Linked DNA regions of Homo sapiens: region 2 is linked to region 1. The links come from fine-mapping of genetic effects on gene expression. A gene starts in region 1. The other region holds a variant in brackets. All regions are shown on one strand. Distances are between the middles of the regions.

The links.
Region 2: its variant is fine-mapped to the expression of LINC01612 in lung (TOPMed, PIP above 0.99).

Annotation. Positions count from the first base shown.
Region 1 is chr4:170,225,464-170,228,392 of GRCh38, reverse strand. It overlaps LINC01612 (long intergenic non-protein coding RNA 1612), which reads right to left and starts at 1,802. Exons shown (of 3, transcript NR_125889.1): 1 at 1,610-1,802.
Region 2 is chr4:170,138,170-170,141,098 of GRCh38, reverse strand. No RefSeq gene overlaps it. Among named protein-coding and RNA genes, the nearest start is that of AADAT, 50 kb to the right of the region's middle. RefSeq lists silencers at 2,247-2,396, 2,167-2,461. The variant C/T (reference allele first, on the strand shown) is at 1,615.

The DNA.
Region 1 (2,929 bases):
CACCAAAATTGCATACAAATGTGATGAAAGTGCATTTTCCCATATTTTTCATCAGATTCTCAGAAGGCTCGACAAACTTAAAGGTTGATAAACTATAGTGTGGAGGGTTAAGAAAGCTGAAAAACTTCTGACCCTCCTTCCATGCAGAGGTGGAATCTATTTCTCTCTCTTGAATCTAAACTGGTGGACTACGCTTTGACAATAGAGAGCATCAGAGATTATTCCACTCCAGTTCCAGACTCAGCCTGTAGGAGAACTAGTGTCTCTTTCTTGATCTTCCAGAGCCCTGAGCTACTTATCCTGAAACCATTGTATGTGAGAAGCCCAGGCCACATTGGAGAGGCCCTGGAAATGCTGTATGGAAAGAAAGAGAGGCCAGGGAGCACCATGGCACCAGATATGGGGGTGGAGAAGCCATCTTGAGTGTATCCCACAGCTTCTACTGCTGCCAACCTGAGCAAAGATGAATCACCCAGCCTGGCCCTTCCAGAATTCCTGACCCACAAAATCATGAATGAAATAAAATTGTTGCATGAAATCATAAAATTCAGATGTTAGCTATTTTAGATCAAGAGATATCACAACACACTGGGATTTTTTATTAAAAATTCTTAAGCATTTTACATACAACTCAAAAATTTTAGACATGCTATTATAAACTAACACATAATTCTAAGCCAAAACTATTCATAATGTGTTCCTCCTTTCTGTCCATCATGTTGTTTACTAATGAAGCACTTAACAGTTTTGGGGGAGGGGTAAGAAAAGTTACCAAAAGAAAAATATAAACAAGCAAACAAAAAACAGAACTCATCATTTTCAAACACCTTTTCTTCAATGCAAATGATATTTAGTTTTTACTGTTCTTAAACTTTACATCATGCCTAATTTCTTTCCAGTCCTCTAACTTCTCTATATGGTCTGCTCACTGTTTTTTGTTGTTCTTGCCTTTTAATACCTAATGACACTAATTAGTTCACAGCTGTCATAAAATGCTTTTGTTCTCAAAGAACTCACAGATAAGGTTTCTTTCTTGAATAATCTGTAGACGCTTTACTGTTTATAAAACAGTTCTCATTTTATTTTTGCTAAAGATTGGTCTAAGTAATTTATATACACAAGAGAATTGAAAAATCATGATTTTTTTACTTGTTCAAGTTTAGATCCTATTACTTTTCTGAGTTCATATGACATTTTCCTTTCTCATAATTTTGAGACAAAAGAAAATGTTAGCTATATAAGGTTCAACCTGATTAAAGTGAAGATATTCTCTAAAATGTTCTATCTTCCCACTTACCTGGAATAAAGACTTGGGAAGTCTCAAAACTTAGGGGTCAATCTTAAGTAACTGCAATTTTAAACTCCAATCAGTTAAAAAATTAAATGATCTTGTTCCATGTAATAATCAAAAGCCCATATTTATTTTTACATTAATTTAACATTTATTTAGTTAGAGTCTGCTGGAAGCAAAAACCTTTGACATCTTCTGGCATCTTCTTTCTTTCCTACCAATTTTTTCCTTAGCCTACTCATCTTAGCTTCTACATCCTGTAATTATTTTAGGAAGAGGGTGGTAGAGGGGAAAAACTTAGAGAAGTCAAGTTCTTACCTCACCCGTATTGTTCAATTTGCTTTACGCTTTCTTGAATTTGAGAGGTTTCTCCAGCTCACTCTTTCCCTGTGTTAGAAACAAATGCTGGGTGCTGCAAAGAAAACCAGAACTTAGGCAGAAAATTTCTCAGCAACGCACATCTACTTCTGCAAAAGGGTGCTGCCTGTGTCAGTCACAATCACAAGAGCACACCTAGCCAGGTAGGGCAGGGGTTTTTATCCCTAACACAGTTCCTGTTCTGAGTCCTTTCCCCATTGGCTGGAGTCAGACCACACAGTCTAAGCTGACCCGATTGGCTAGTATTTGAAATTGAGTAAGGCCAATTAGGGGAGAAGGCAGAGGCTGTCCCTTACCAACTAGGTGGGAAGGCTTGTTTACAGAGTAAGAGGTTTGCTAGTTACAGATTAAGCAGAGAAACAAGTGCTCATTACAGACTAAGCAGGAAGGGCTGTGCACAGAGCAAGAAAAACCAAGGAAGCTTAGAAGAGGAACTTACTATTTCTGGCACCTGGTACATGTAGGGGTTCTTAAGAAATTCCTTCATTTCTGCAGACCCCTTAATAAGGATCATTCACTCTCTTCTGGTTTGTGTGTCTGCAGGGCCCTAAAATCCAAGATTTCACCTCTAGCTCCTTCCACTGGGCTCCCATTTCCCCTCCAGGACTCTCATTAAGTTAAGATCTAGGATAACTCGACCCTGCACCTCTCAGCATAAGATAGATAAGAGTAGAGATAGAGATTTTGTTTAAAACCCCATATTGCCACCTCCTCTCCCTATAGCTGAATTTCTTCTTTTACTTGACCACGATGATTTGGATACATAATTAGATAATAATACAGCATAATTCTGTTCCAAAATCTATAGACTTGTGCTCATATAACCCAACTACCTTTTTCTTTCTCACTGGTGTTCACCTTTCCCAAAATGTTTTCTCTGCAATAATAGTTACTGTTATAAAATGTTGCCTGATAATATTTTCTAATCTGTATTAAGCAGTGTTGTGAGTCCCCAGAGTTAATATCAACTCAAAGTTATTCTTTATTTATTTACATTTTTTTTCATAGAGGCAGGGTCTCACTACATTGTCCATACTCCTGGGTTCAAGCAATCCTCTTGCCTCAGCCTCTCAAAGTGCTAGGATGACGGGCATGAGCCACTGTACCCAGCCACAAAACTATTCTTTAAAGGTGGTTATAAGTGGTCCTTCAATCATAATCATAGTATTTTTAAACTTTTAACTTTAGTGTATAGTTTCATTTAGCTGGCTTTGACATAAAGGTATAGTTATAATGAAAGATATCTGCTAATCTCACCTT
Region 2 (2,929 bases), 87 kb after region 1:
CAGGCAGTCCTCTGAACCAGGGCAGGTTCAGAGAACTCCAACTAATAACATGATCTGACAGCATTTATAGGAAACAGAAGTACGGTGTACAGAAAACTGAATTGGATACAGCTTCATTGGTTAACTGGCTACGGAGCGTCCTGCAGTAACTAAAGCTCAGCTCCTGGAGTTCAACTTTATGTTGGTTTGGTCTGTCAGGCCTAGTGCAGGAACCTAGTTTATTTTGGTTAACAATACTAAAGTTATATATATATATATATATATATTATATATATAGTGCTTAATGTTTATCTCTATCACACTTCTTTTAGAGTTTGGTTCATCTTTCTATCATGTTAGGACCGCTTTCATCTGATTCTGTCATTTAGGGTTTTTTTTCATGAACCCTCTTAACTCTGTGTCATCCACATGTTTGGTGAGTGTGTCCTTCATATCTTTATCCAAATCCCTGATGAACGTATTGAACAGAATACGGGCCACAACAAGGCTCTGATATTTACCAGCAGAAAACATATCAGATTAGCAATGTGTGGTTCAATGTTCAGCCAGAAACTCATCAAGCTAATAGTATTACGATCCAACCCATAATTCTTCCTCTGTGTGATATCATATAACATCAACAAAAGACTTTACAGATGATATTGGACTTTTTCAAGAAATTAAGAAAGTAATCTTTTTGTTTCACACATAAACCAATGAACTCAGAAGTCAGAAATGTATTAAAACAGAGTTGAGCCCTACCTTAAGAGTAAAGGGACTTACAAAACCTTATTTGCATTTACTGTCTCAAGTAGGGAAATACTTACCCCAATGTATTCCCCTCCTGACCTGACACTTTATCATGGACCCATAGTATCCATTCTGCCCCATAAACAGGAATCAGACATAAGGAATCAAGTCTTATTCATCTCTATTTAGTCTACAATGCCTAGCATAGAATTTCATACACGATACTGTGGAGTTTACTTCATGACTTTCTTAGGTTAGGATGGTCCTAGCAAAACAGAAACTTCTGCCACACTGCTCATCCCATTAGAAGTCCAGTGGTCACTCGAGTTTACTATTTCATATGGTATTGCAGAAAGGAAACCTAGACATAGGTTTGCCAAAATATGTGTCATGCTCAAGGCATGGCGCAGAACACAGATTCCCCCATAACCAGATGATGAGGTAATTGGCTGATAATATCTCTGGGTGTAGGCAGGGATGTTGCTACTACTAGGCAGTCAATATCTTAGTCATTGATACTAGCTGTTATTGACTTTGAATGAAGCACGATCCTCCATTTAATAAAAATAATGACTATTTAATGAGGACAGCTGGCCCAGCTAGGTCATCCCTGAGCCACAGGTTTGGACACAAAGAATACACCCATTCCAGGTCATCAACCACGCTCAGACCTCTCAGGGGCATGAATACAGGCTCTCCCTAGCCAAGTCCATCCTTTTGCTGACTTCGTCCCCTCTTTAGTAGTCTCTTCCTGCTCTGCCCAAACTCTCATTATCCCTTCCATGCAAAAGACCTCATTCTCATTCTGCTTCTTTTCTCACAATAGAACTCAATGTGGCCTCCTTCCCCTGACAAACATTAGAAGCAACACAGAATGTATTTATC[C/T]TTTTCTAAGAGAGAGATCTTATATTTTTAGAAAAATTATCCTATCTATACACTCCAGTGGATAAACGATATCCTTTATATGTGTTAGGGAATTTTCATATTCCCTAAATATTCTTCTGAATACATCAGGAACAAATACTTGAGTGTTTACATCAAAACATAAGATGATTCTATGCTGCACACAAAACTAAATAATGTTTGTTCAGTGAATCAATGACTTTATATAATACTTTATATAAGATGTCATACTTTGTATAAGATCGTTACACAAGGTACTTTAGATATTAAAAGATACTGAAAGATATTTTATAGACATTATACATTTATATTTTATGTAAGATATTTATATCATCCTTTATATAAGATATTTTGGATCTGGTGCACTAAGAGGCCTATGGATGGGAGTGTAGATATGGTATACTGCCGAACACTTCTCAGAAAAGAAGAGCAAAAATGTTGAGACCTAGAAAGCAGTGAAATGGAATTAAGGAGTTCTGTTCTTCAATAAGCCAGAAATTTGAGGCAGGTGAATGAGGTTCAGGCAGAGAGCATAGGTTAGCAGGAGATTGGCACAAACATCCGAAAACAATGTATAAGTGTGGGGCAAAGATTCGGAAGAACTGTAAATCAAGTGTTGGGTCTAAGCCTAAAATACCGTCTCTGAATCCTACGGCTGAAAACAAGTGCGCGAGCGACACCTAGTGTTCAAGTCCATAAATGATGCTGCGTCAAGGCTTCCTTTCCTTTCCTGGAGCCCACGCTGCAAGGACCGCCCGCTCCTCGGTTAGGTACAACTCTCATCTGCGTACACAGCAGATACAAACCGCTATATTAGAAATTAAGGCCTTCAGAGAAGTCTTTAACCCATTCCATTTCATAGACCACCCACTCTTTTTAGATATTTCATAGCCCACCCACTCTTTTTAGATATTTCATAGCCCACCCACTCTTTTTAGATATGGGGAAACTGAATTCCCTGTATAGTTTTAGGAAAATGAATTGCCATTTCATAACGAGATATGTTTTCACCTCCTTAAGCTAGTTTCCACTCCCTCTAGAGCAAAACAAAGTATCAGCGAAGTTAAAAACATGGGATGTTCCAGGAGCAAAAGGCCTGGTGCAAGCAGATTGCTTTCTGGACAACTAATAACAATATCTAATCGTTATTGAGTCCCTTGTATGTACTAAATTTTGGACCAAAGAAACGGCAAATATCACCTCAAATGCTGACAGCAGTCCTGCCATTCAGGGATTATTATGCAGAAATTCTATGAGGAAACCGAAATTTGGAGGCTGTGAGTGATTTACCCAGACA